Regions from separate parts of the Homo sapiens genome. Here all the other regions are linked to region 1. The links come from fine-mapping of genetic effects on gene expression. A gene starts in region 1. Each other region holds a variant in brackets. All regions are shown on one strand. Distances are between the middles of the regions.

Region 1 (10,637 bases):
TATGCTCATACACACACACACCCACACAGAGAGAGAATGAATCCAGACAATCTATCGAAGATTAAACCAGGCATGAAAATCCAGATGCTGCTGTACACTTTACAGACGATTCTTTAGTTATCATTTCTTCCTCATACAAGAGTGTGAGGGGCTCACTGAGACAGGTCTTGAGTTCCCCTCACTTGTACCTTTTAGTCTCTCTCATTTCCTCTTTTCTTAACCACTGTCACACCAAAAGAGGTACAGTATGGTGCATAAGTTTGCAAAACTATAAAATGATACCATTCTTTGATTCTTCATTCTTCGATGCCATTCTCAACCTTTTGCACTTGGAGAAACATAGCTATTTTCACTTTTAAATGTCATTTATATTAGCATATTGTGAGTTGGTTATTACTTTTAAATACATTGACTATCTTTTAAGTTTTTAGTCTTAATTTCTACTATAAATATCAACACATATAGTCCACATAAACAAAACTCTTTGTGGTCCTCAATACTTTTTAAGACTGCAAGGGGGTCCTGAGACCAAAAGTTTGAGAATTGCTAATGTAGTAGTTAAGAGGACAAACTCCAGATCCAGCTGCCTGAGTTAAAATGTCACTTCTATCACTTAACAGTGGTGTGACATTGAGTACAGTCGCTTAGTCACACAGTTGTTCTGTGCCTCAGTTGGGGATAATAACGATAATAGTACTGACCCCATAGGGTCATCATAAGGCTTAAATGAACTGATATATGCACCATGCTTAGAAGTGTTGTGAGCCATCATTCTCTTTGGCGCTATTCACCTACCTCCATTCCCCGTGGTTTGCTTGGTTTGGTTTGATTTGGTCTGGTCTTACTACTGCTGCCTCTCCGTTTGACTGGCAAAGTGTGACTGGCACTGCTTCACCAGGGGCTAAAGGCATAGCTGACGAGGCTCCTTCATAACCACAGCCACAAGTTCGCACTCCAGTGCTGCAGCACCCAGCTGTACTTTGAATTTGCCCTTCAGAGAGGCTCCATCAGCAAAAGTCAACTGGAAAATCAAAGCAAGCAATGCTAAGTTTTTTAAAAACACGCTATGTCAGATGAATTAGAATGTAAAGTAGAAACTCTAGCCTTCGGAATAAATCAATGAGAGGAAGGAAGTAGAGACAAAATGCAAGCAATTACATTCATTCCTTAAAAGAAAAGGTGGTATCTGCCCAAGCTCCCTCCAATTTGAACTATGTTTTCACAGCCTTCCATCTCCTTTTTAAAATCTCTCTTCAACATCCCAGAGCAGCCTCCTCCCACCTGGCCAAGAACCCTCAGGCCATCAACTTGCTTAAAAAAATATGATGGCCCAGATTCTGATCACGTGCACATGACTGACGGCCATTGGATCTTCCCAGGGAGTACTGAAGTTTTATGAGTATTATGATCATAATCCCCTGCATTTATATTAGTTTTCTTTCTAATCTATATTTTCACATAAATTTTTCTTTAATTCTTGGCACTCAGCATGCTGTTATTCCTATTTAACGGTTTAAAAAACTGAGGCTCAGAGAAGCTAGCAAACTTGTCCTAAGTCCCAAAACTTTGAATCAACGGAACTGAAACTGGAGTATAAATGAAATGGGAAAATTTTTAACGACTGAAGGACTGGGGGAAATGCACACAGCAGGGAGGGGCAGGCATGCTGCGGGGAGGCGGAACTAAGCTATTTTTGTCAGGGGGTTACTTAAGCAAATCTGCTCTACTGTGGAAATAACCTCAACTAACTCCCCCTGAGTTTTACACAGCCTCTTTATTGCCTCCACAGCTCAAAACTATACATTCTCTAATTCTAAGACTTATTTTTATTATTTTTAAATACTAATTTGTTCATACAATGGATATCCAGGTGGTACTGTTCTTAAGAGGATTTTAAAGAAGGTACACCCAGTATGTTTTATATTTAACCTATGGCTGCTTCTCAAGAGTGTTTGTAAATTGAGAACTGTCTGTATTGCATGTGTGATGTCATTAAATATATATTTGGTCTGTCCAAAACTATCTGGCATTTGTCCTTTACCAACATTACTGAGTATTTTAGTTTCTCAATCATGCGAGCTTAAAAAGCACAGCCAAATCTAATGAATGTCAAACTTGTGTAGTGACTCAAGTTGATTTCAGTATGTTTAAACAGAAAAAAAAATAGAACTCACAAAGGATCAACTGGAATGAGTATTCACTTTAAAGGAATGCAAAAAGGAATCCTTTTGAACCATTCATTCTCCTGAATATGTTTAAATGTGCATTAATTTAGGTACAACTGCTAAGGAAAACTGTTTATCATATACGAAATATTTCCTCATTAAAAGTAATGGCAAAAACCGCAATTACTTTTGCACCAACCTAACAGCAGACACTTTGAATATGAGTGTAATGTTCTTTGTATGTAACAATGCTAATGCTAAGCTATCTCAAATATCTTCTTTTACCTGTTTTTTTTCCTTCGGTAACTTATCAGCCCTGTCCAATAACAGTTCCTACAATAATGGAACTATCTGTCAGTGCTGTCCATTTTTGAATGAATTAATAAAATTAATTTTATTTAAGTAGTCACATGTGGCTACTGAGCAATTAAAATGCCCTATTGAAGAACTTAATTGTCAATTTTATTAATTTTAATTCATTCAAATAGCCATGTGGCCAGTGGTTGTGTATTGGACAGAGCAGTTATAAGATCTCCTTCAGCCAAAAAAAAAAAAAAAAAAAAAAAACCTATGATTTTATCATTCTATCATTGTGAGGCCAGAATTAAGGCTGTAGTTATTAAACCTCTGATTATTAATTGGATGCTGAAATACAGTTAGCTAACTGAACACACAATTTTAAAGAGGCTGTTTTTGTTCTTAATAAACATCAAAAAAACTATTATGTGCAAAATAACATGTGGGTAAGTAGGATATACACAGACCAAGATTGAACAGACATTTCCTGACGGGGACATTGCTCTCCCAGTTTCTGCTAAATTCCAATTCAGTACATCCTAACAAGACATGGCTGATCAATTGTGTAAGCTCATGCTTTTAACAAGTATTGCTTAGCTCAATAACTCCCATAGCTCTAGGACAAACAACTGTCCTGAGCCCTGGGGACACGCTGTTGCACTCTGTTGAGCCTGACAGAATGCCTGCTCTTCCAGGCACTTACTCTCCTGGGAAGCACAGCCAGGTGAACAGGCCACGAGAATACACCGTGGTCAGTACCACTACAGGGGCAGACCTTGGGTGCCACACGAACACACAAAAGGAGCTTCTAACCCAGTCTTGGCTGGACAGGGAAGGTTTCAAGTGCAGAAAAGAAGGTTCCAGAAGGAAAAAACCAGTAGTATCTTGCTATCAAATCTATCCATTATTTAGGTTTCTTTGGGAAATTTCCTTTTCATTTGGCATTATGTCATCGTCCTTTCAAGGGTATTCACTTTTTGAATACATTTCAATCGATATATATTTATCGAACCCTGAAGACTAAAAAGCCTCATCGTCATTCTCCTGGAGGATTCACCATTTGCTCGGGGCTAAAGGTGTATGAAGACAAACCTTTCTCCTGAGAAAAAAAATGAGTTCTTAGGTCAAATATTTCAATAATCTACCCTTTAAGAAAAATGTAACACTGCCTTGGAATGCATGATTTCTTCATAAGACTTCCTTTTTACAATTGTGTGTGGCTTTCTACCCAAACTAACTTTAAACATCCCTCCACAATAAAATTCAGGAAGGCCACTTTAATAAAACGAGGGGGAAAATCCCACCAAAATGTAAACTTAATATTTCAACACAATTAAATTTATTAATAAAGAATTTCTATTGCATAGTGAACAAAGCATTGGATTTACCTGACAGTTTGGGGTCAAATTCCAGTTCCTCCTCTTAGAGAAGGAATGGCCTTGGGCGAGTTATCTAACTTCTCCAAGCATCAGTTTCCTCATTTGTAAAAGGTCAATAATGGGGTAAGAATAGCCCCTACCTCAGAGTTGATGAGAGAAATGAATATGCACACATTTACAAAGACCTTAAAGTAGTGCGTACCCTAAGCCTTATATGAAGATTATTATTCTTTCTAATTACAATAATTCTAATTGCAGAAATCTATGCGAAAACAATACACAGTTCTGGCCAAAAGAAGTTAAAACAAATGTGAAAAATAAGCGACATCCAGAAACTTCAGCAGCTCCCTTCTGTCCTATGCCTCAAGGTACCAGAGAGGGAAAAAGACCCCCAGGAGAGGCTGTGAGGAAACCTGAACTGCAAACCCACCACGATGTCTTCCTGGGAAAGGCAAGTTGGTAAAGAAAGATGTGAACTCTATTTCAGGGTAGTATGTTTTTTTCATTTGCTTCCAAGACTTTGATGGAATGACTTGAGAGGAAAAGTTCACAATTACTAGAAAGAACCTAAAAGGACATGAGAGATGAAACCGTTGCAGTATTTTTGAAATAAATGTTTTCCTGCAAGAGCAGAGTCATGGGCGGGGTGTCTGTGTAATATCTACTCAACACAGCCGAAGGGTAAGAGGAAATCTTGGTAAGCCGACTTCCAAGTCTTAATGGGGAACCATACGGAACCAACTGCACGCCAAATCCCACGCTCACCGAAGCTTCAGGGATTTTCTTGTGGGTCTGGGGGTTTAATCTGACAGCTCCTAGAGCCTTCAGGACTTCCCGGGCACAGATAATGGGCCGCGACTGCACCCCCGCGTCCCTCCTTGGGGCGCAGGCTTTCCACAGCTACAGTTCTCCACGTCAGCAGCCACGTACACAAGCGCCGGCAGCTGCCAACAGGGCGTGCCCGCTTCCAACCCTGCACTCTCCCAAGCAGGACATCCCTGCACCGCCCGGCGCGTTCGCGAAAACTCCGCGGGGCCTCGAGGCGTCCCGGGATTAGCCCTGACGCTGTAGGGCTCTCTAGGTTTTCCACGACGCAGGGGAGCGTAACTGGAGCGCACCCGACAGCCTCTCAGCTTGCCCAGGCTCGACTGGATGGGGCTTTGCTGGACCCCCGACCCGACCCCCACACACCCGGGCGGCGGGGCCCAGGTACCTGCCAACGCCTCCGCACCTCATCGTCCCCTCTGCTTCCCCTCCTCCCTCTCCCCGAACCCTTCCCCCCTCCTCCCCGCCTCCTCCCCGCCTCCTCTTCGCCTCCTCCTCCACCTTCTCCTCCCCCCGACCCCTGCTCCCACTCTTGGCTCCAAGTCCGCGCGCGGGCTGGGGAGGCGGTGCCGAATGAATCACCGTCACGTGGGTCGCGGGCGCGCAGAGGCGGGCTGCGCCCGGGCGGCTCTGGCGCTCGGAGCGTTAGTGGAAAATTTCCGGAGATCTACTGGGGCTGCGCGCCGCAGGCCCCGCCCGCCGCCTCCCCGCTCCTTCGTATCCCCACCTCCTTTTCCCCCTCCCTCCTCCTTTTCTCTCTTCCCCCGCCGTTTTCCGGTCGCAGCCGGGCCCCGACATTGCGGAGGTTCCTTTCTCTCCGGGGAGCGGCGCTGCGCACGCCCCGCCCGCTGCAGCGCCCCAGGCTGGCGCCGCCAGACCCCTTTGCCCTGGGGCCGCCAGCCCTCGCTTCCTTCGCGCGGCTCCAAGCCGCCACGCGGCCTTGCCCCCGACCTTGCGTGTAGCCTGCTGGTATCCTGAGAGGCCAGGAGCGGCGTCCTGGCGCCTCCGCCTTCGCCTCTGGGGCGCCGCACCCCCGCCACCTCCGTTCCGCATTGAGTGAGACCCCCCACATCTCCGGGCGGAATGTGAGACAAAGGGAGAAGACGGTGACGATGGGCGTCTTGTCTTCTCATTTAGAATTACTGCACCGCCGTTTAAACAAAGCACATGCAAGGCCAATTGTGTTTTACCCACTCCCACTTAACCACTGAGAAAATAAGCTATTTTCTCTATCCCATAACATTCTCCACTTCGTTTTCCCAACCACGAACAAAATTTATTCCTGAGACAGCAACTTTGAGGATTTCGTTGACCTCATCCATGTAGAAGTGACAAATGGTTACACAACAAAATTGTTTCACTCAAAGGGGGTTGTTGTGTACGTGGTTCACCTCAATAAAACACACATTTAACTGTTTCAGCAACTGTTTAGCCCTGGACTGTCGCCCGGGTTAATGTCGCTGAATGGGGTGGGGGGTTGAAAAGTGGCATTAGCGCCACGTGTCCCAAGACGAAGTGACATGGAACCGGAGGCAGGTGCCTTAATCAGTCACGAAGTGCCAACGATGTCAGTCAAAACAGTTGGGAGTTTTATTGAGTAAAGATCTCAGAACCAAGCCCATATATTAAATGGTTCCCATCTAAGAACCAGAATTGCAGGTGTGTTAATTTTAATAAATCGTTATTTCAGTATCTTAGCCCTGGGCAAAGAAAGATCCGGAAACTGACTGAAGGCCAGGAATGTAGGTTCATCGTGGCCTACGAGTGCTTTGGGTAGCACACCTTCTTTCAGTCACTGTCATTTCTCTTTAGACAAGAAGACCCCTAACAAGTATTAAAATAAAGGTATTTTTTAATGATCCTGTTTTGGAAAATTGTAAGGATCTGAAATTTTTAATTTTTTAAAACAATGGAGCACTTCAATAAAACTTCTATTTTCTTTACTAAGAATATACACAGCTTGTTTTTTAGCTTAATTCTTGATTGTTGCTGTGACCTTACCACATTCTGAATAACCTTAAGCATGTATATGAGAATCGTATCTGTGATTTTGCTTTCACATTTCACTTTCCAAGACACTTATTGGTAATTAGCAGGTGTCAGTTTACCTAGCCAAAGAACCATTGTCTATAAATCCTTCATCTCTCTGCCATTGTTTTCTTTCACATTCATTGGCATATACTACACCTAGCAAAATAGACCATTCCAGGGTCAAATGAAAAGGCCAACAGGTAAGTATCACAAGAAGGTCATTAGTCAAGCCGTTATTTCCCCTCTTTTATTTGGGAAGGAGATGGGAGAAACAGAGTTCTGATACTAGGTCCCTGGAAAGTTCTTCAGTCTTGACAGAATTGGGTATGTTTGTACTAAAGTATCTGTAAAACTAAATTTTTTTAAATTTTTTGTTGTTGTTTTGAGACGGAGTGTTGCTCTTGTCGCCCAGGCTGCGGTGCAATGACGCGATCTTGGCTCACTGCAACCTCCGCCTCCCAGGTTCAAGCAATTCTCCTGCCTTGGCCTCCCAAATAGCTGCGATTACAGGCGCCTGCCAGCACACCCAGCTAATTTTTGTATTTTTACTAGAGACGGGGTTTCACCATGTTGGCCAGGCTGGTCTCAAACTCCTGACCTCAGGTGATCCGCCTGCCTCGACCTCCCAAAGTGCTGGGATTACAGACATGAGCCATCGCGCCCAGCCATATTTCTAAATTTTTTTAAGACTGAGTTTCTGTGGGCCCCTTAATTTTCTTTTTCTTGCTGAAAAATGAGGTATGCATTTACAAAATACTGATGCTTGCAAATATATGGATTTACAATATAATATATTTTTTAGGCATTACTATGTTTTCCAGTCCTGGCCAGTGGGATCTGAGACAACAATAACAGCATTTCCAGGAAATGTTATCTCTCAAAATAAAATTAACTCACAAAATGACGCTCCTTTCTTTTGCAATGGATGTGGTCCTGTCTGCCTATGACCCCTAAAACCACTGCAGCCAACATGTGACCATGATGGGAGAGATCCCCAGCATGTTGAAGAAAGCAAAGTGAAAATATAATGAGCTCTTTGTCTTGGAGGGAGGTATCAGGGCCAAGAATTAACCCCAGAACTGTGCTCTCTACATACTTCTTATTATGTGAGATAGTGTCATTATTTAAGCCACTTTCAATTGCATATTGTGTTTATTGCCATAAAATGTTTTCTGGCTGGGCACAGTGGCTCATGCCTATAATCCCAGCACTTTGAGAAGCTGAGGTGGTGGATTGCTTGAGCCCAGGAGTTTGAGATCAGCCTGGGCAACTTGGCTGAAACCTGTCTCTACAAAAAATTAGCCTAGCCAGACGTGGTGGCCTGTGCCTATAGTCCCAGCTACCCAGGAGACTGAGGTGGGAGAATCACCTGAACCTGGGCTCTCTGATCACACTGCTGCATTCCAGCCTGGGCGACAGAGTGAGACCCTGTCTCAAAGTAAAATAAAAATAAATAAATAAATAAATAAATAAATAAATAAATAAATAAAATAAAATAATAAAATAAAAATATTCTTGCTGCTGACAACTTCTCTGTGGTAGCCAGCCTCCAAAATGGCCCCCAGTGATGCTTACCTCCTGGTATGCACTCCCTTGTGTAGTCCCCTTCTATGTTGAATCAGGGCTTGCCTTTGTGACTGATAGAATATGGTAGAAATGATAAAGTGTGACTTCCAAGGCTAGTTCATAAAGGCATTGCAGCTTCTGCCTTGCTCTTTCTTGCTAACTTGCTCTGGGATAAGCCAGCTGCCATGTCATGAAGACATTCAGTCAGGGTTGTGCAGACACCTTCTTGGAGAGGAAGCAACCAGCCAGCACCAACTTACCAACATGTGAATGACCTTGGAAGATCTTCCAGCCCCAGTCATGCCATCAGATGACTAGAGCCCTCTCACAGCTGACTGCAACCTCATTAAAGACTTAAAGCCAGAACACCCAACAGAGCTGCTCTTGAATTCCTGATTCATAGACACTTCGAGAGATAATAAATTATTGTTGCTTTCAGACACTAAGTCTTGGAATAATTTGTTACATAGCAATTGATATCTAATAGAGTATCTGTCAACACCAGAAAAACATGCCAAAGTCAGCAAAGCACTCCCAGAGTCCGTACTGTTGCTTTAGACTTGAGAGCTATCTTACAAGATTGAATACAACCGTTCATTTATCAAGCACTTTCTAAATATGATCCCAAGAATAATATATACAAAATGATAAAAAGAAAAAAAGAGTTGAGACAAGAATTTCCTCAGGCACCTGGAAAGATTAATATTAAAAATATGGAAATGCAACAACATGGATGAACCTCAAGAACATTATGCTAAGTGGAAAAAAGTCAGGCACAGAAAGACAAATCACATAATCTTATTTGTATGTGGAACCGGAAACACTCAAACTCATAGAAGTAAAGAATAGAATGATGGTTACCAAAGACTGAGGGAGTGGAGGGGAGGAGGTTTGGGGAAATGTTGGTCAAAAGATAACAAAATTTCAGTTAGATAGGAGGAATGAGTTCAAGAGCTCTATTGTACAACATGGTGACTATAGTTAATAACAATGTATTGTATTTTGAAAATTGCTAAGAAAATAGGTTTTAACTGTTCTCACCACAAAAAATCAGTATGTGAGGTAATGCCTATGTTATTTGGCTCGATTTAACCATTCCACAGTGTATACATATTTCAAAACATCGTGTTGTACATGATAGATACAATTTTTATTAGCCAATTTTAAACATTTAATTATTCTCCAGTCTTCACTATTTGAGGAAAAAAATTAAGTTAAATACATAAGAAGCTGGGCGCAGTGGCTCGTGCCTGTAATCCAGCACTTTGGGAGGCCAAGGCAGGCAGATCACGAGGTCAGGAGATTGAGACCATCCTGGCTAACACAGTGAAACCCCGTCTCTACTCAAAATACAAAAAATTAGCCGGGCGTGGTGGCGGTCACTTGTAGTGCCAGATACTCAGGAGGCTGAGGCAGGAGAACAGTGTGAACCTGGGAAGCAGAGCTTGCAGTGAGCCGAGATCGCGCCACTGCACTCCAGCCTGGGCGACAGAGTGAGACTCCGTCTCTTAAAAGAAAGAAAGAAAAAAAAAAAGCAGTAAGAAAATATGGAAGTCATTGGAATAAGGGGAAGGGTGTGGTTTGAAGGGAGATGGAGGAAAGAAAAAGTAATTTCACTATCTCTCCACAATGCCAGTGTTCATACTTGAATTTTGAATAACACTGTCCTAAGACAAAGGAGTGAGGCTGTGTGCATAGCAAAGGGGCATTTAATTAGGTGAAAAAAAGCCATTAGAAAGCAAGCCTTGGAATTCATCCTCATGCTTGTGTTTTACAAAAGACTGGGTCTGAAATGCCAGGCATGGTGGCGCATGTCTGTAATCCCAGCTGTAGGGAGGCTGAGGCACAAGAATAGCTTGAACCCAGGAGACAGAGGTTGCAGTGAGCCAAGATGGTGCCACTGCACTCCAGCCTGGGCAACAGAGTGAGAAAAGAAAGAAAGAGAGAAAGAGAAAAGAAAAGAGAAAGGGAAAGAAAAGAAAAGAAAAAAGAAAAAGGGAGGGAGGGAGGGAAGGAAAAGACAAGACAAGACTGGGTCTGAGAAAAAAAATACTGTCTTTTCTATCATCAAGGCATTGCAACAAATATGGATTCAGAGTTTATTTTGTGCTAGGCATTGAGGGAAAAAGTTGAAAGTACTAAATCAACAAGCACTTATTGAACACTTTTTATGTATCAGGCACTGTTTTAGGCACTGAAGATTCATTTAATAATGAGCCAAACCAGTCTTTTCCTCATGGAGTTAATGTTGCAGAAGATCATAAGCAAACAAACAAATAATGTGTTTTCACACATTGCACTAAAAAATAAAATAGGACAGTGGGGAATGGAGCTTGAGTCCAAGGAGCAACTTTTGCTGGAATGGCCAAAGAAG
Region 2 (10,637 bases), 100 kb before region 1:
GGGGAACCAGAGGGGATGGCAAGTCTTCAAATTACTCTTAAGAATCAAAGGTCTAACAGAAGTAAACCTCATGATCAAATACAACACAGATATAAGGTTAGGGACCACATGAAATTTTCTTGCTCTATAGTACTTAAAATAATTTTTTTTTAAAGTAAGAAAGAGAGGCACTTTGAAGTTCCCAAAATGGAATGGCTCTTAAGTCAAAGGTTGAGCAGACTTTTAATAAACTGGTAATATAGCTATAGATACAGATATAAATTCACAATTTTAAATGACACTTTTGCCTACATCATCCACTTTTGCATACAAAAAGGTGAGGTCCCTCCATGTCAGAAGCACCCCACGAGCAAACACAAGGACTGGGAATTATCAGACAGTCATATGAACTAGTACATAATTTTCCATGCACACAACAAAACTTTAGTGAGTAACTACTGTGTTCTAAGTGTGAAGTATAGGTGATACAAGGATTTTGAGGCACAGATGTCTGCCTTCAAGTGTAACACAGTCTGTAGGAAAGGCTGCCATATGTGGCTCATATATGTCAGATGGTATTAGGAGATAAAGGTGGGAGGCTATGCCAGCATCATGTTAAGAGGGTCCTTAAAAACAGGCTAAGGGTTAGTATTTAATTCAGTGACAATAGAGGATCATTAAAGTTGTTAGGCTAAGGAGTAATATCATCTGGATTGAGTATACAGTTCATTTAAAGTAAAAATATAGAATTCGGCAGGGCTTGGTGGCTCACGCCTATAATCCCAGCACTTTGGGAGTCCAAGGCAGGCGGATCATGAGGTCAGGAGTTCAAGACCAGCCTGGCCAATATGGTGAAACCCTGTCTCTACTAAAAATACAAAAATTAGCCAGGCATAGTGGTGCATGCCTGTAGTCCCAGCTACTTGGGAGACTGAGGCACGAGAATCGCTTGAACCTGGGAGGCGGAGGTTGCAGTGAGCTGAGATCATGCCACTGCACTCCAGCCTGGGTGACAGAGCAAGACTCCATCTCAAAAAAAAAAAAGAAATATATGTGTGTGTGTGTGTGTGTGTGTGTGTGTGTGTGTGTGTGTGTGTGTGTAGAGAGAGAGAGAGAGACAATTCATTCAGAGCAAAATCGAATAAGGAAAAAGACTGGTTTCGAGACAACTGCAAAGCACCCAGGCAAGAGGTAAGAGGAAATATGGTAAGAAGTAAAAGGAAGTATGGTAGCACTCAAGAGAATTAATGAAAAAAGAGGAACTCAACTGAAATTGACAGTGTAGAACACTGACTTGTTTCAGAGGAAAAGAAAATATTTGGTATGGGCCATGCTGAGTTTGAGATGCCATTGGTGTCTAGCCATCAGTTGGATATTCGGGTCTGAGGTACTCGGGTCCTGGCAAGAAAGATACATATGAGTACTATCCTCATGGGAGTGATGGTTAAGGCCACAGGATTGAACAAGATAGCTGAGGTAGCAAGTGTAGGTCTAGAAGCAGGAAGAAGAAAACATTCCGGAGGACACGTACATGTATAGAGAAGTAGAAAGAGAAGTATGTAAAGAGAAAGGAGAACTGAGAAAAGAATGCCAGGGAAGCAGAGAGGGGGATGCTTAAATGAGAGAAGCAACAATCAAATGCTAAGAAGAAGCCAGAGACGCATAGCCTGAGATGAGCACTTGGATCCAGTGCATAGGTCAACAGTTGCCTCTGAAAAAGACACTTTAGTGGGGCTGAGAATAGAAAAGTCAGCATTCAAGATAGTGAAAAATGAGTAGGTACACAGCACAGAAATGGACTTTAGGGAGTTTGATAGAGGATTATAGAATGAAGATGGAAATGACAAGGGAAGAATTGATGGGGAAAGGTCAAGGGAATCAGGCTGGCAGTTAGAGGGGTTAACCTGACAAAGAAAAAGGACACATACTCCTCAGAAGCAAATTAGAAAGAAGAAAGCATAGGAAGGGGCAGTGAAAATACAAAGATTCTCTCCCTAGACCCTGTCACCCATGCCTATGGGCACAATTACCGCCTCTCCTGGAATTACCCACAAATGTCTGTCTGTCTGCTGCCCTAACCTCTTCCTGAGCTCCTAAGCTATATATAAAACTACCTACTAGAAAACACGTGGATACCTTCAAGGCTCCTCAACTTCAACCTGCCCAAATCAAATTCATGACCTTTTCTTCCAAACAGTGTCATCCTGTACTGTTCCCTGCCCGATAAATGATATCATTATCCATCAAAACTGCCAAAGTTCAAAAGTCAGGACTTGCTTCTACACCTCTATTGCTCTCAACTTCACCCCCAACCAAAGGGCTTTTAATTTGTCTCCTCAAATCTGCTTTTGCCCCCTTCTAAGCTCTGCACTGCAGCTAGAGTGACCTTTTCAAAACTCAACTCTGATCATGGTCACTCCTGCTTAGATCCCTGCAGTGACTTCCTCTTGGGCAGGGCCACAGTCTGACTTGACTGTTCAGGCAATATGTGGCCTGGCTCTGCCCACCTCCCTGCCTCACCCCACATTCTCCCCCACCCACATGCCCTGGCTAGTGTGTCTTCTCTGTGCTTCCTCACATAATTCCAGTTCTCTTCCACCTCTGGGCTCTGCACATGCTGTTCCACCTGCCTGGTACTTCCTTCCCACCATCCTTTCCACCTGGTTAACTTCTACTTCAGGGAGAATAGAAGACAGCATTATATCATGGTGATTAGGACCCCAGGCTTTGGAATCAAACTGAGTTCCAAAACCCACTCCTCTACTCACCCACTGGGGGGTCCTAAACAAGTTATATACTGTATCTAAGCCTAAGTTTCTCACCTGTATGTTAACATGAGTCCATACTTCACAGAGATTATTCATAGAAAGCACTAAAATCTGAGACTGGCACATAATGCCCACTTCGTAAATGTCTGCAATTTTTTGTTAATCTTTTTTCCAGCCATGGGTCAATCATCACTTCATGAAGAAGCCTCTGCCCAGGTCACCACCCCTTCCTCTGCACCCGCAGTCTCCTTTTTTGCACCCAACACAGATTTACTTCTGCACTTACGTATGAGATTTTTAGAATACACCTGTCTTCTCCACCAGAAGGCTCATTGACAGCAGGATTCGCCTGCTTTGCTCGTGCAGAGAGCCCAGCCTCTAGCACAATACCTGACACAGAGTAGACACTCTACCAGTACTTCCTCAATGAAGGAATGAATGAATGAGCAAACCACAGTAGCCCAGCTGTGGTTAGAGTGGAAGTAAGCATATCCAGCTTGTCCTGTAAGCAACAGCCCAGTATTTGGTCATTTGGCCATTGCGTCCTTGCATTAGTGGGGGCCTGATGAGCAGTTTGTCATCTCATCTATGAATGCCAGTAAATCATTATCAGCAATATTTATTTTTTAAAAACTAGGCGAGCCTGAGGTAAAATTCATATTTTTGCAGGCCTCGTTGGCCAAGGACATTCGGTCTTCCCTGGCTGAGGCTGATGAAGATGATGACAGCAGAGATGATAATGTTGTAATTAACAAAGCTTATGAATATTAGCACATTAAACTCTAGAACACTTTGGTCTAATAAATGGGACATACAGAACAGAAGCTCCTGAAGGTCATCTCATATGCCAAGTGAGAAATAGGGAGAGAGCCCTGTCACTTGCTCTCTTTGGCGCATCTTAATTTCTGTGTTGTAGATACATACACACACGCCTCACCAGGTCCCTGTGCCTGGATGTGACCTTCCATGGTCTTCTGACTATTAACTGTGACATATGAAGTTCATGAGTCAGACCCCATAGTCTGCATCCCTGCTTATCACTACGTGACCTTCCCTCCCCTCAGGTCTCTTCCAAAGAAGACCACTGAGTTGGCTCACACTTTATTTTAGGGAATGTTTTCTGACTACTTCTCTTGGTGTCTGTTAATGGGCAAATATCAAATCCATGGGAAATTCCTACACAGTTCTCAACAAATATGAGGAAAAGCAAACGAAAGATCCCTATAACTCTTTATACATCGCCTTTACAGCATGTAAACCCTTTGATTAACATCTCCTGGCCGTGTGCAGTGGCTCACACCTGTAATCACAGCACTTTGAAAGGCTGAGGTGGGAGGATCACTTGAGCCCAGGAGTTTGAGACCAGCTTGAGCAACATAGTGAGACCAATATCAATCGAGAAAAATGACGAGACAAGTCTCAATCATTTTAGGAGGTTTATTTGCCACAGTTAAGGATGTATGCCCGGGAGACAGGTCTATGCCTTTCTCTGAAGATGATTCTGAGGGCTCCAAATTTAAAGGGGAAAGGGCAGGATATTCAGAAGTACACAATTTTCATGTAAGAGCGGGGGTAGGGAAAAATAGTCGTTCATGCCTTTGTCCGGCTCAGTGACTCTGCATTTTTTTATATAAGGTGATATAGACAAATGGGGCAGAGGAAAAATGCAGGGTATCTGTATTTTACATAAGATAACATAGACAAAATGGGGCAGGAGAACAATCAGATATGCCTTTGTGTCTGGTGGGCAGGGAGATGACTGCACCTGTAAGGATAAGCTATAAATTTACATTGCAATGGCGAAATTGTGAAATTTTAACAGAAACACCTTAAAAGATCTTGAAGCTCACTAGGAATTTCCTTGTGGGCAAAATATGGCAGAGATGTATAGCTTTTCATCTTGTAGCCATCTTATTTAGGAAGCAAAAAGGTGGAAGCAGGTTGCATCATCCAGTTCTCGGCCCAGCTTTTCCCTTTGGCTTAATGAGTTTA[G/C]GGTCCCAAGATTTCATTTCCTTTCACACCCCCATCTCTACAAAAAAAAATAAAAATAAAAATTAGCCAGGCCTGTACTAATAGCTAAGAGTACTAGCACGCACTTGCAGTCCTAGCTATTCAGGAGGCTGAGGTGGGAGGGTCCCTGGAGCCCAGGAGTTCAAAGCTGCAGTGAGCCATGATCACACCACTGCACTCCACCCTGGGTGAAAGAGCATGACCCTGTCTCTTAAAAAAAAAGAAAAAACCCTCCCTTTGCCTCTAATGACAAAACGGTCTTTCCCTTGGTGGAATAGCTTGGGAGCTTTGGGAAGACTGAATGCACAGTAGGTTCTGCATTGTCATTAGAATCTATGCTAAAGTTATCAATGGCCTTTATTTTATTGAGTACCTAGTAAATGTAGCAAACCAAAGGCCCGAGATGCATTTACTTTACTTGCCATTAAATTAGGCAGTAGCTTCAATGACATAAGGGTAAAATCTAATGAGCTTTGTACTCTTGTTAGAACAGGTAAGGAGAATTGAGGTCTCAGCATTCACAGATGATGTTATGGCCCTTTGTGTCCTAGGACTGTTTATCTTAGGAGCTCTGTTTGACCCCTGGCAGACTGTTGTCTTTAGCTGAAACAGTAAAGTGTGATTCACCACAATATGGTAATGTTGAGAAATCCAAGGAAAACCTTTCATTTCCAGAACTTAGTGACCCTTTTTGAAGAAATCTATTATTGTCTAGCAATTTTATTACAAAAGCACATTAGGGTTTAAAAATGTGAAGTGGGTGTGGAAAAAAAAGGCTTATGTAACATTAGACGCAAAAAAAAGATTATAAAGTCTTGTCTATGCTAAGATTGTAACTATGTGAAAATTAGATAACATATTGACAGTAACTGGAAGGAAACATTAAAACAGCTGATTTTAGAATGGCAAGATAAGAGACTTTTTTCTCTTTTCTTTTTTTCTTGGTTGATTTCTGTTATTGTTGTTATAGTATTATTTGTACAATACAAGATTGTCAGCTAAACATGTATATTTTGCTTAAAATTATAATTCACTTATACTACAGACATTAAAAAATTATCCTCCACCTTAAAATCAAATATAGAAAATACGGAGCTTTGCTACCTTATCTTTAAAAACTATTATTTATTCTGTGAAATAAAAAAGGGAACAACTGCTAGCACAGTTCTTAAAACTAGCAGAAAACAATTTATCTCCTTCAGCATCACTGAAAACAGACTAAAAATTCTTATTTCTTTAATGAGAAATGGTAGAACAAAATAACTTATTATTAAATGTTCTTTCTCATTATCTAGTAGGCCAGAGAACATCTCTGAAAAAAAAACCACCATACATTTGAGAAATCTTTACTGGGGTTAAGCCAGAAAAGACTTCACCTTATATTTGCCTGGTGACTACCAGTGCTTAAAGACAGAGAATGCTGGCTGGTTTCTAACAACCAGAATTAAATCCCTAAATTATAAGTCTGAAAATTCAACTCAGAAAATAACCACACAGTTCCCCTGTTTCTTAGCCCTCTATTCAGTACTTAAACCCACAGGGACCTGTTGCCTATAAACAAAACTGAATATAGAATTAGGATAAATCTCACACGCAATGGGCATTTCCTGCTGTCCAGAAATCTCCATTTACTTTTTAAATAAAAGGACTCCTATCCATAAGAATTGGCTGCCTTTTCTTTTTGGTGTGTCATTAAAACTCAGGTCTTTCTTTGTATACCTTCCATGCAATTCAATCCAACAAAAATGCATCCAGTTGAGTGGCTTCCCAGACCTGTTAGGTCAACAAGCTCTACCAGGAGGCTATGGAAACACCTATTGGCCCTTGAACACTGTGTCTCATCCATTGGTTAGCATAGCTCATGCTGGACATCTAAACAGTTCAATCAGGAATTGCTGGACTGCGTGTTCCTAACCTTCCTCTTTGCATGACTGGTTATATGTGGTGAGAGTTATCAGTGGCAAAAAAAAGTAAGTCAAAGCTAAAATAATAAGCAATCTTCAGAGCAACAAATGAACTACCCATTATTAGTAAATTGACTGCCATGCTAAAAAGAGTGAATTCCATTCTAAGAGCAATGGGGACCAATGGGGAATGAATTTGAAAAGGAAGAGGATAATGTAACTTGGGTTTAGGATAAGAACTAAACCCAAAGGCAAGATGAATATAGATTACAGAGGACAGAAATAGGAATTGGGGAACTAATAAATTTCCCCAATTGGGTCAGTTGGAATTGGAATTGTTGAACTGACCCAAACCAAGGCAATGAGGGTAAGAATAGAAATGGGATAGATAATACTTTAAATGGATAAAAGGATGCAACAAATTTGATGCAGATTAATGAAGAAAAGCACAGTGTGAAGACAGTTAAGAAGACATTAGTGTTCCTAGCCTGGATTACTGAGTCTGAGTGATGCCATTAATATAATTGAGGAACTAAGGGGAAAAAATTGGTTTAGGGAAGAAGACAATGAGTTTGATTTTGGATATAATAGGTTGAAAGTGTCTTAGGGACATCCATGGGGAATGGCCCAGCAGACAATTAAGATATGCCAGGGCTAGAAAAGAACATTTAACAGTACAGACTTTGAAATTAAATCCTGGTTCTGCCACTTAGATTAAGTGGCCTTGTATGAGATATTTAAACTTCTGAACCTTCTATTTCTTTATCTAAAAAAATGAAGATAATTACATTGTAGAATTTTGTGAGCATTAAATAAGAAACGTGTGGAAAGCACTTACAATGTCTGACACATAATTAAGTACTAAAAATAAAAAATGATCTTCCATTGAACCACTGCAATAATCTCTTCCTATTCTGTTTCATACTTTGCCTCCTTCAGTCCACCTCTGCATGGCAATCGAAGAGATCTTGTCATAACAAAGATGAACTCCCCATCACTTCTCTGCTTAAAAATCCTCTAAGGTATCCCTCTGAACCATGGTCTGTAAGATCTGGCATTTCTATTCTTTGGCCCTTGACCATGCTAGTCTCATTCTACCCTCAGGGCCTTTGCCCTTGCTGTTCTCTCTGTCTGAAATGGTCTCCTCTAGATTTTTCAAGGTTGGCTTTTTTCATCCTTTTGCTGTTAGCTCATATGATACCAACTAATGGAAGCTTTTTGGTGATTGTTTCTTCATCTATCCCAGGTACCTTCTATCCTGTTATTCTGTTTTTATTTTATCTATAGAACATTACTATTTGAAATGAAAAATTTAAATATGTTTACGTGATGTTTTCTGTTCCCTCTGTTCAATAAGAATATCAGTTCCTTAACAGCTTGTCTGTCTTATTTCCTGCTCTATCCTCAGTACCTGGCATAGAGTAGTTTCTCCATAGTCATTGAATGAATGAATGAATGAATGCAAATATATGGAAGAATTGTGGACCCTTAAATATAAAGTGTGCATTTCACTTCCAGTAAGATGAAATAGTCTGATTCAGAAACATAAACTCATGATGTTGAGCTACTGTAATCTGGATGTCCCAATGAGGTAAGCCAATTAACCTCTCTGGCCCCCATTGTCCTTCTCACTGTAAAAGAATGAACAATTGCCACTCTCTTGCCCAAGACGGATGCAGTGAAGAATACATGAGATGAAATCTGGCATATGTCTGGAGTTTTACAAGAGGAAGACATTCTATTTAACTGTTCAACCCATCATAAAGATGACTGGCACAGGCCAAAATGGCATAATCAAAATCCCTAAAGTCACATCAAATCACTAGACTATGAATCCCCAAAATGTCCTGAAACAATAGTCTATCAGAATTTCCACTGAGCTACAATGATAATGTAAATCCCAGGATCACAATTCACTGTGGTAGTTCCTGAAATATTATGAAAAACAAGGCCACTCCCCAAATGGATTAGTAATCACAAAGAGAATGCAAAATGCCTCCTGACAAAGCATGATCAACACCTCAATTTCCAGACTCCTCGTGTCCCTCTCTCTGTGGACACCATCAATCAATGTCCCTTTGGTACACAGGAGCCCACTGCTGGAGCATTCGGTCAGCACCTACTAGGAGGCTTACTCTCAGAAAAGCTTTTTGACATACATCCAAACAAACTGAAGAAAATATTGAAGTCTTGAGCTCCATTTCAGGCCCAGCAAATGGAAGCTGGCCTTATAGGTGAACAGATAACGGCTCAGCTCAGGATGACTCTGACTTAAGCAACATCCCTCTCTGGTTACCCACCTTCTGTGAAGGCTCTATGAGAACAAAGAGATCCAGAAAGTTCATCATACCTGGTATAGAAATTAAAAGAATGAGTGTTTCACTTAGGTAGCCCCAGGTTATTTTGATTTTGTTGTTTAGCAGTTACATAACTTTGGGCAAGTTATTCTAAACTTTCAGGGGCTTCAGATTTTAATTTGTAATGTGAGGATAATACTGCCGGTCTTTAATTGGTTGTTTTAAGGATGAAAGAGATAGAATAAAATGTTAAGCATGCTCAACGAACACCAACTATTCATATGAACCAATAGCTAATAATAATCAATTATCATTAATACCTGAATCCAAGTTATTTCTCTTTAATTCATCCAGCAAATATTAATTGGGCATCTGCTTGATGACAGGATTTGTGTTAGAAGTTGGGGATGCACAAATGAACATGGTAAACTGATTCCTATCTTTGTGCATATTTGTAAATAGGTAATTATGGTATGGCATAATAAATGTTACCATGGGAAGAGTTCAGAGTGCACTGAGAGCAACCGGATGGAAAATCAAACATGGCCCAGGGAGTCAGGAAGGCTTCTTGGAAGAAGTGATGCTTAAGCTACGGATCAAGGAAGTCATCCAAAAGGTTGGGAGGATGGAGTAAAGAAAATCCTATGCAGAAGAAATACTATTTGCAGATAACTGAAGAATAGAGAGCAAGGCATTCTCAAGTTGCAGAAAATAGGTTTGCGTATGGCACAAAGTCTGGTAAAAAGGGGTTTTGCAAGTTCTTGTTAAAAAAGTTTTTACTTTAATCTGAGAACTACCTGAAACATGGTTAGATTCAAGCCAAAGAGTGGTTTGGATGTATTTATGTTTTAGAATAACTCTGGCTGCAGCGTAAAAAAAAATAGACTAAGCAAAGAAACCACTATGAGTCTATGAATTAAACAGATATCCTACAAGGATGTAGACCAGTGGACATATTCTACAGATATCTAGAAGGGACAATGACAATGACAGGACTTTGCAATTGATAGGAAGGTAGAATGAGGGAGAGAAAGGAGTGGAAAATGAACATCAGGTTAAATGGTAGTGCCACTCACTGAAATAGGAAGCACAGAAGAGGAACAACCTTTGAATGTTCAATACAGGATAAGCTGAGTTTGAAATGCCCACAGAGCTCTCAGGTGGAATATTCAGCAATAAGGTGATTAATCAGGCCCAATGATATGGTTCAGCTGTGTCCTCACCCAAACCCCATCTTGAATTATAATTCCCCTAATCCCCATGTGTCATGGGAGGGACTTGGTGGGAGGTAATTGAATCATGGGGGCAGTTACCCCCATGCTGCTGTTCTCATGATAGTGAGTGAGTTTGCACAAGATCTGATGGTTTTATAAGGGGCTTTTCCCTCTTTGCTCAGCACTTTTTTTTTTTTTAGACAGAGTCTCACTCTGTCACCCAGGCTGAAGAGTGCAGTGGCATGATCTCTGATCACTGCAACCTCCAGCTTCCGGATTCAAGTGATTCTCCTGCCTCAGCCACCCGAGTAGCTGGGATTACAGGTACCCACCACCATACCTTGCTAATTTTTGTATTTTTAGTAGAGATGGGGTTTTGCCAAGTTGGCCAGGCTAGTCTCGAACTCCTGACCTCAGGTGATCCATCCACCTCAGCCTCCCAAAGTGCTGGGTTTACAGGCATGA
Region 3 (10,637 bases), 54 kb before region 1:
CCGGAAGTCCACATATCCCTTATATGACAGACATGTAGTTATCTAGAGATGTGTTCTCTGTTGGAAATTGTCTAATTGATGAGATCTGACCCAGACAAGTGTTTTCTTTCGATGTTGTTCATTATCATGCAATCTTGGTATTTTAAATAGGATTATGCCGTTTGGGCTGGGCACTTAAAATTTCCCTAAGGGCCAAGGCTGAGTAATTTTCAGGTAATGAGCTTTAATGTCCAAGGAAAGAGACATCCTGAATCACCTTCTGAACCTGTGCCATGAATCTGCTGTAAAACTCAGTATCAGTAGTTCTAGAACCTCACATAATTGATCTTGTGACTTGAAATTGAATCACTTTCAAGGTTTCTTCCAAAGTGGTTTTGCCCTCCTGAACCATACTCTATTACAGCTACACTTATCCAGTCAGCTGAAGAAAAAGAAAATGATAATTCTCTGGTGTTCCTGCCTTTGTTGAGCAGCCTTTAAAGTCACTCTGAGCCCATTTCACCCTCAAGAGCAGAGGCACGCCAGAGGCAAACTCTCCCAGCCTGGAAAAAAAAAAAAAACACTTAGGTAAAATGCAGAGGAAAAGGAGATCTTACTGCTCGTGAGCCAGACTTAGGGATTCAGTCTTTCATACTCCAGGGGCTCTGAGTCACTGTGCTGTGGAAGTGATCTGAGTTATATAAATCCTTGTGCACATCACCAGAGAGAGACTCTATGTCAGTGTGCAATATTAGTGTGCAAAGTATAGTAAAATCTGTGAAGCCAGACCCCACTAGTTCAAAACTAGGGATCATAAAACCTTATACCTGGCACTATCTCCTGTTACAGATGAGTAAACAGGCTCATAGAAGTTGAGTGACTTGCCGGAAACCACATGGGTATTGAGTAGCAGGACAGTAGTTTGAAGGTAGTTCTCCAGAATTTAAGTCCAGTGCTCTGTTTTTAAAGAATATTTCCTGTAAATGCAGGGAAAGCTGAAATTTAACTTTATTCTAAGAAAAATATCACTTATAATCTAAAAAAGCCTAACTGAGGATATAGGTGAGGGTAAGCAGAAAGAGATATGTTTTTCCTACTTAAAAGAGATTACTGGGCTTGAGGAAGAAGTAGGAGGTAAGAATTAGAGGTCCACTCTTGAATTTATCAGCTGGGTAATTGAGGGGAAGTTAGTTGACTTTCTAGTTGTGAATGTCCAGTTTTTGACCTATAAAATGGACCTACTCACAGGGTTATTACAATTATTAAATGAAAGAGTACAGATAAACTAGCTGAAACTTAGCAGGTGCTCAATAAATGTTGCTACTCTTCCTTGAAACAGCTATAAATTAACACATTATTCTTATCCATTCAGTAGAGAGCTCTCCCAAGGACTCTTACTTCATGTTTTTTGGCCTTTTATTGGGTCTACTTATTGGCTTAATTGTTTATTGTCTGCTTCCTCCTACTAGAAGGTAAGCTAAAAGATAGCAGGCCTTTTTCTATCCAGTTCCACTCTTTATTCTCAGTTCGTAGGACAGGACTTGACCGATAGTGACAATTAGAAAAATTTGCCAGGCCAGGCACGATGGCTCATGCCTGCAATCTCAGCACTTTGGAAGGATGAAGCAGGCGGATTGCTTAAGTTCAGGAGTTCAAGACCAGCCTGGGCAACATGGCGAAACCCTGTCTCTACAAAAAATACAAAAATTAGCTGGGCTTGGTGGCACATGCCTGTTAGTCTCAGCTACTTGGGAGGTTGAGGCAGGAGGATCATCTGAGTCTGGGAGGTGGAAGTTGCAGTGAGCCAAGATCACACCACTGTACTCCAGCCTGGATGACAGAGCCAGACCCTGCTTCAAAAAGAAAAAAAAGAAAGAAAGAGAGGAGAAAGAAAATAAAAAAATAAAGAGAGAGAGGGAGGGAGGGAGGGAGGGGGGGGAAGGGAGGGAGGGAGGGAAGGAAGGAAGGAAGGAAGGAGGCAGGGAGGGAGGGAGGGAGGGAAGGAGGGAGGGAGGGAAGGAAGGGAGGGGAAAGAAAGAAAGAGAAAAGGAAAGAAAGAAAGAAAGAAAGAAAGAAAGAAAGAAAGAAAGAAAGAAAGGAAAGAGGAAAAAGAAAGAAAGAGAGAGAAAAAAGGAAGAGAAAGCAAGCAAGCTTTGCCAAGTAACATAAAAGAATTAACAGCTTCATAGGGAGAAGTGAACCCACTTCCCCCACCATAATCCTTTTAAGAAAAGAAGATTTCACTAATTCTTTTATCCTAAATTTTTCCTGTGTACAGAACATGGTTTTATGCATATTTTAACTTATGTATGTATATGCATATATATCCAATATCAAAATAAAGTATATACCCTTTATGAGGTAGTTGTTGTCACTGAAGAAAGAATAGATACTTGGGGAGAAACAAAGAGAAGCTCAATATTAATCTACAAATGTCTTACTTCTTTTACATTAAAAATGATAGACAAAGTCAAACAAGAGCTAATTTAATCAGAGGGGTAGAAACTGTGTGGGAAAATGGCATTGATACAGAAGAAATAGAAGCTGACCCTGTCCTAACAAATTTATGAAGTAAATAGTCCTATTCCAAGTTTACAAATTGGGGAATTGAGGCTTAGCAACTTGTCTAAGATCAAGTAGGCAGCAAGCAGCTGGACCAGGTGGGGAAGTGAGGACAGGGGTTTAGCCATTTAGACCCAACTCATGCCTGGAGGACTCAGCTTGATTTCCCAGCAGATCAGATTACCATTAGCAGAATTCCCAGTGTATCTGCCTCTGGAAAAACCTATATGATCATCATTATTAGAGCAGTGTCATTCCCCAGAGGAGTGAGATCGCTGAATGTCCTTTAGACAAATGATGTATTTGTGACTCATTGCCCTATTATAAATAAAAACACTGTGTTAGCCAATTTTCACCCAGTTATGGTCATTAATAACCCCAAAAAATCTCACTGGCTTTTTAACAACCAAGGTTTACTTCGCATTCACATTTCATGTGTTGGCCATGACTGTGCTCCACATGGCTTTTTCTTTCAGGATCCAGGCTTGAAGAAAGAACTCCTCCGGGGAACATGCTGAACTTGTGGCAGGGGGAAAGCAGAGTGCCAACTGCCATGGCCCTTAAAGCATTTGCCTGGAACTTCTACTCAGACATGGCTTACATCACGTCCTTTCACTCCATTGGCCAAAGCAAGTCACATGGCCAAGTGAGAAGGATAGATAGAGTCCTTCCTCAGGGAATTACTATAAATCGTATGGCTACCTTGCTACCAGCAGGCATTATACAACCTTTAAAGGGTACAGTGAGTAGTTGTGAAAAATACTGTAATACAATATTCCATGGATACCATGTTCTCTGCTTTTGTAATCAACAGGTAGGGTTTCTGTTTTCGTTTCCAACAAACATACTAACACTTGCTTTTTATCATTTCCATAAATTATTTGTTTCAGAGGCAACAGGCTGCTGGAGAAAGTATTTAAATATTCCCTGAAGTTCCCAGAAACTTTCCTTTTCTGGGGGAAATGCAACAAATACTAAACATTCATGACCCATTCTAATATTGTTCTTCCAAAATTATCATGGCCACACCAGGCTGATTTAAATACATTATTGTAGACCCTTAGATTTTTGCTATGTAGTAATACTTCAAAGGAAACAAACAGCATAAATGCCCAGAGTGGGTTCATTTTGTTAAACAATGGTTTCGAATTTTCCCATTGTGGGTATTACAGTCTAAGTAGAAGGAAATTCAATTAGAAGTGTCTGTGCTTTATCTAATGCTCAGCTGTCACCATCTTGAAATTCTTCATAGTTTTTGAACAAATGATCCACATTTTCATTTCGCACTGGACTCCGCAAATTATATAGACAGTCTGGCTTAGAATAGATATTCCCTCTTCTGGAACATTTCCCAATACTTCCGGCGAAACCAGGTACCTCTCCTAGGTGCTCACATAAGGCCCTGTGACTATGGCCCTTGACGCCCTTTACTGAAATTTATAGACTGTCTTCCCGTCTGGCCCGTGTGTTCCTTGAAAGCAGGAACAATGACTAATTCAGCATTGTATTTTCAGCATATACTATGCAACAAATATTTGATGAATAAATTAGTATCAGACATTAGTGTACCTTTGTAAAATTCCCAGTTTGTGAAACTTTTTCTCTGGCAGCTGAAAAACTGCTCATTGCTGCTCTGGTGTTTTTCCTGTGCTCTTTGCCAGGCACTGCCAAGTAAACTGACAGCAGCAGAGTGCCATTTTCCTACACCGTCAGGCTGCTGTGACTTTCCCTAGAGGGACCTGAGCCTTCAGCTGGAGTCTCACATCACTTGGATCTGTCCCCCAGATTGACTTTTTTCCTCCCATACAATATAGAAAATCACATACAGTATTTCACTTATGTTTAATACTTGAAATCTGTGGCTACTGCCAAAAGCATAGGACAAATGCAAATTACCATAGTCCAAAGGAAAAACTAGAAATTTACAAAGAATGCATTTTTTCACATCCCACACAGTAATTAATGGGTCTATTTTCAATTAATAAGGTATTTCTGATGCACGAGAACTAAGTTCAAAATAAATTTCAGCAAACCATAAAAGGATCTACATCTCTTTATATATACTTATCTTTGAATAAAAATAAACTGGAGCATGCGTTACTCATGTAAAAACAAATCTGGACAGTTAACCAATAGCCAAGTTGGGGAAAATATCTGTAAAATCAGCACTCTGTAGACAGACGTATGCAGTACGGTAAAGCACACAGACTTGAAGTACAAACATCTGTGAGTTCAAATCCTGACTGCTATTTACTGGCTGTGTGATCTTGGGTCATTTATTGAAACCTCTCTGAGCCAGTTTCCTCATTTGAAAACTGTGGATAATAATGTCTGTCACCTCATAGGTCTGTTACAGAGATTAAGAAGAAGATATATATGCAGAGCACGTAGCACAGAGCCTGAAACTCAGAAAGCCTCAACAAGTCATATTCACACCCTTCCAGCAGCACTAATGCCCTAATTCCCTCACATTCCCTCCTCTGCCTCTGTCCCATTCACATTCTATTCCTCTCTCCCCCTTCTCCAGATTAATCTCTAGTTACAGATTTGGTTAATCCCCAATGCACAAAAGTCAATAAATTATCTTTTTAAAGGAATATTCTCAAGCCTTTGGTTTTTGTGGATTTATTTCTTCAGTAATGGAAAATTTTCTGTACTGTTTTTTGAAAATATATGAATAAACATACATCAAGGATGCCCTCTCTGACATCAGTAAGTAACTCAGAGATGTCAAATATGTAAAAATGAAGACTTGCTTTGCTTTACCGGAAAAGAAATGGTATCACCAATAACTTTCTGATAAGAGGTGCATTGTATACAACATGAACCTCTTAGATCATCTGAAGGGAACTGTTTTCTATGACATTTTTCCTCTCTAGTTACCTCAACATTCCTCATAAATAATATTTGACAGAAAAAAAATAACTCATAGTACAGCTATAAAAAAAATCTGTCTTCAAATATGCAC[A/G]TCTAATGTTTGCTACTAGGTTTAATTTTCTATGATTTCATCATCCAATAACTCAGGGAGAAAAATGCCTTAACATATCAATTACCAGGTATCTGCCTTGATCAAAATAGCCAGATAGTTACCAAAATCTTAATCTCACATAGAGTTACGTGGATAAGTAAAGTAATGACAGTATTTAACACCACCACAATTTGCTATGAATGAAATTTCCATATTATCAACAAACATCAATTGAGGAATCACTCTATATAGACTAGAATATTGTGCTATAGTGACACAGGTACCAGAATCTGAGACCACAAAAGCCTAGCCAGCCACTTTTTTACTCCACTCTGGAAAGTCTAAAGACTGAAGAGTAGAATCGTCCTTTAGAATGAAGGAGACTGAGAATTAAAGTCAGCAGAGCAGGATTTGAATTGTGGTACAAGCCGTCTGGTCAGACAGGCCTTGAACAAATCATTTAATATCTCTCTGAGCCCTTAATTTTCTCACTTAAAACAGAAACAAATATTATATCTCTTCTTTATTTCAAGAGGTTGGGATGCTTGAATGGAACTATGCATAGGAAAGAATTTTATGAAATATTATGTGAATATGAAGTTGTTTTGTTTGAAATGCTGAAACGAACTGAAGTCCTGTGTCACATTCAAACGTTTGTTAGAGTCACAGGTCCAGCCCATATTCAAGGGGAGGGGATTAGACAAGGACATGGATGCCAGGAAGAGGGGATCAGTGGCAGCAACCTCAGAGGCTGCTACCACATCCATTTTCAAAACAGCAAATTAAGTTAGAAAAGCAGTTGCTTTCTCATTCACTATTAAAATGTCATTTTTACCTTGAAGAGACGTATTAAGCATATTTGTTTTTCTGAAAATATTTGCATAATCCTGGCAGCCACTAGTCATCACAGGATAAGTTAGACAACTTAGGAGCCTTGTATTTTGTAAATGAAAAATGTATAAGTCAACTTTCAGTTGGATAACTTTTAAGCCTTTGGGATAGGTCCCTATAGATGTGCTCACTGTGGAACATATATAAACTATGATTGTGTTGTAAAATTGTATTTAATGTGTGTATCTATCTATCTATATATTTCACATATTACATAATTTATTGTAAATAACCTGAAATATATACCAAAATGTTAATAGTAGTTATCTTTAGATGGTAGAATTACGGGTTATTTTTTCATTTTACTTTATTCTTGTTAGTTTTCTCTTTTTTAGTTGGTGCTGTTGTCTTATGTTTTTGCTTTTGAAATGAAATTGTATTATTTCTGATCATAAGAATATAAAACATTGTAGACAGTATAAAAAGACATAAATTAAAAAGTGAAAATCTCTCACAGTCTCACCACTGGAAGATACCACTCTTAACATTTTGATGCTATCCTTCCAAACTTATTTCTACACATCCCCCTACACACACACACACACACACACACACACACAAACTATAAAAAGAGGATCATACATGCATTTTTTTTAACTAACAGACTTTATTTCTTAGATCAGTTTTAGGACTACAGAAACATTAACCAGAAGGTGTAGAGAGTTCCTATATATTCCCATTCTGTTCACCACCAATTTCCCCTATTATTAACAACTTGCTTTGGTGTGGTACATTTACTACAATTGATAAACTAATATTGATACATTACTACCTAAAATGTATATTAAGATTCATTCCTCTATGGGTTTTGCCAAATGTATGATGTCAGGTATCCACCATTACAGCAACATGCAGAATAGTTTCATTGCCCTAAAAATTCTCTGCACTCCACTTATCTATCCCTCCCTGACTTCCCTCCAATCCCTGCCAATCACAGATCTTTTTACTGTCTCCATGGTTTTGCCCCTCCCAGAATGTCATATACTTGTAGTTATAGAGTATGTAGCCTTTTAGAATGCCAAATGCTATTTTTTCACCTAGCAATATGCATGTAGGATTCTTCAGTGTTTTTTCATGGCTTAATAGCTCATTTATTTTTATAACTGAATAATGTTCCATTATCTGGATATACTTCAGTTTGTTTTATCCTCATTTACTTGAGGACATCTTGGTTGCTTCCAATTTTTGACAACTATGAATAAAGCTACTGCAAACATTTATGTACAGGTTTTTGTGTGAAGTTAAGTTTGAGTAAATACCTAGGAGTACAATTGCTGGATCATATGATAAGAGGATGCTTAGTTTTGTAAGAAAGTGTCAAACTGTCTTCCAAAATGGCTGTAGTAATCTGCCTTTTGATAAACAATTTATTGTGGGCATCTTCCCATATAAATAAATAATAACTGCATAGCATTCCATAGCATTCCACATTGCATAGCATTCTACTGTAGCTTATTTAACCATTTCTCTATTAATGGACATCAAGATCATTTCCAGTTATTTACTATTGCAAACAATGCTGAGATAAACATTTTTGTACATACATTCTTATCTTTGAACACTTGTGCAATTATATCCTTTTAGGGAAAAAAATCCAAGGAAATTTAAAAGGCATAAACATATTCAGTTTTAATGAAAGGCTGTACAAATTCACACTCCCATTAGCAGTAAATGAGAATGTTGTATATTCCCATTGCCTCCCATAACAATCCTCTTAGGGCTTACCAATCCAATGGGTAAAACATTGCATATCAATGCAATTTCAGCTGACCTTTCCTTTTTACCCAAAAGGTTTAACATCTCTTCCCTTTTTTTAGTTATTTGCATTTCTTTCCTTGTGAACTGTGTTCATAGGCTTTTTACTTTTGCTATTGAGTATGCAAAAATATGTTGCTTTTTAAAGCTTTCTATATACCTTAGTCTGCTCTCTAACAGGCAGTTTATTAGAATATATACTATCAATTTAATAGTTCCTAAGAGCAAGGAGAAAGAGACATCACCACATTAAATGTATACACTAACTTCAGAAGGAGGGCAGGGACTAGAATAAGGAAATACAGTATTTCTGTGATATGTATTTTTTTAATTTAACTTTTATGGGTGGTGATTTTAATTTTTTATTTTGTTTTATTTTTGCCACCTCAAACTTTTATATTGTCAAATCTGTGGACCATTCTGTTCATTTTTTGAAAGAGAGTGGGGACTAGAATAAGGAAATATAGTATTTCTGTAATATGTATTTTTTTAACTTTTATTGGTGGTGATTTTAATTTTTTATTTATTTTGTTTTATTTTTGCCACCTCAAACTTTTATATGGTCTAATCTGTGGACCATTCTGTTCATTTTCTGGCTTTATTATGCTTTAAGAGGCCTTCTCTAGTCAAAGGCTGTATAAAAATATATACTTAAACATTCTTCAGCTGTTTAATGTGTGTGGTTTAACATGAAAACTTTTTATCCATTTGTAATTTTTGTCTGGATAAGGTGAGATCCCAACTTACCTTTTTCCCCCAAAATGGCTAGCAAGTTGTTCCAGCACTCTTTAAAAACAGTCCATTTTCTTGGCCACTTTATCACATGCTAAATCTTCACATATATTTGAGCCAATTTCTGAACTCAATATTTTGTTCTATTTTTCTGTGTCTCTTTGAAGTTACGACCACACTGTTTTAATTACTGTAGCTTTTAATATCGATAGCCACATGACTCACCTTCTCCAGGTCTTTACTCAAATACCACCTTGTCTGTGAGATCTTGCCTGAGCACCCTATTCACAGCTGCCACTTCCGTCTACTTCCATCCCCTGTCCAAACCCTGGAACTCTACAGCCCCTTCTTTGCTTTATTCTTCTCCTTAACATTTTGCACCATCTGACATCCTATCTATTTTACTTATTCATTTGCATATTGTTTATATCTCCAAATGAGATGATAAGTTCCATGACAACAGAGATTTTTGTCTATTTTTGTCTATTGGTGCCTAGAACAGTGGCTAGAACACCGCCAAGCACAGAGTAGATCCCCAAACATATTTATTGAATGAATCCATGTCTGGTGGAGAAAAACATTCTACATATAACCACTATCCTTCTTTCTGAGAATTCACCAACTCAATTCACATACCAGTTTTCCATGAAATATAGGATTAAAGATCCTATGAATTTCATATTAAGAATATTCTTAATAATTTTGTGATATTTTGTTACCACGAATTCATTTACACAACAAATGTTTATGGTGTCTACTATGTGTCAGACCCTGTTATAGGAGCTGGGGATGCAGCTGTGAAAAAAAAATGGTTTCTGTCCTCATGCAGTGTATGTTCTAGTGAGAATAAATTTCTTTTTCCTTTATATTTTATTATTGGTAATGTTTGGTATATAAGAAAGCTATTGAGTTTCATATATTTTAACTTTTAACTTGTCTTTTTACTAAATTTTTTATTGTTTCAAAAAGTATTACAATTGATTTTGTAGTTTTACTAAATAGACAATTGTATCACCTACTGAGAGTAATAATTTTGTCCTTTCCTTCCCAAAAGCACATACTTCTAGTTGATTTTCCCCTTTTATCCATTAGCACAATGAAGCATTTCATTATAATCTCTGTATTTACCCACACTTGCATTTCTGGAAATTAAATCCATTTTTAAGGTCTGAAAGAAAGTCAGAAAATTTTTTTTAATCTTTAGGCCGGTATAATATATCAGAAGTTTTAATTCAGGTGAATCAAAATATCTGATAGGATACAATTTACAACAGTTGCATGCAACTGATGCAAAAGTCATTCTCAGGAAATATTAATTTTTCTCTCATTCCTGGCAGTTTGTTGATATAAAATTGAAAAAAAAAAAGGAGAAGGATGAAGCTGATTTATGTTTAGGAGGCTAAGTAATTCATTGAATCTCCTACTGCTGAATCTAATTTAAAAATATATATAACCATATTTCTCCATTGAAAATTAGAAAACATTAAATCTACTTATTTATTTTATATTACTTTCTATTTGCCAATTATCTCTGCAAACATTGAAGTGCTAAATACTTCGATTGTATACGCAAGCGTACTGAAATAAGGCTGCATAAGTAAAGTTTTACACCACGTCTGCAAACTAAAATTTCCTGGGGTGTTACATTTTTCCTAATAAAATAAAACAGAGGTTAAGAAATATGATTCAGTGGCCATTTCTACAGCTGAAGTATATGAGACTGCAGCCCTAGGTGTCTTGCCCACGCTCA

What was found. PIP is the estimated chance that this variant, and not a neighbour inherited with it, causes the effect.
Region 2: its variant is fine-mapped to the expression of SLC38A4-AS1 in whole blood (INTERVAL, PIP above 0.99).
Region 3: its variant is fine-mapped to the expression of SLC38A4-AS1 in whole blood (TOPMed, PIP above 0.99).

What each region holds. Positions count from the first base shown.
Region 1 is chr12:46,378,131-46,388,767 of GRCh38, reverse strand. SLC38A4-AS1 (SLC38A4 antisense RNA 1) reads right to left here and starts at 5,092. Exons shown (of 4, transcript NR_125380.1): 1 at 5,073-5,092; 2 at 796-1,021. RefSeq lists enhancers at 2,026-2,527, 5,221-5,728 and silencers at 5,087-5,156, 5,307-5,666.
Region 2 is chr12:46,478,597-46,489,233 of GRCh38, reverse strand. The region is part of intron 3 of SLC38A4-AS1 (SLC38A4 antisense RNA 1); the gene reads right to left. All of the region lies in intron 1 of LOC124902923 (a long non-coding RNA gene), which reads left to right. Among named protein-coding and RNA genes, the nearest start is that of SLC38A4-AS1, 100 kb to the right of the region's middle. The variant G/C (reference allele first, on the strand shown) is at 4,740.
Region 3 is chr12:46,432,517-46,443,153 of GRCh38, reverse strand. All of the region lies in intron 2 of SLC38A4-AS1 (SLC38A4 antisense RNA 1), which reads right to left. The region is part of intron 1 of LOC124902923 (a long non-coding RNA gene); the gene reads left to right. Among named protein-coding and RNA genes, the nearest start is that of SLC38A4-AS1, 54 kb to the right of the region's middle. The variant A/G (reference allele first, on the strand shown) is at 5,510.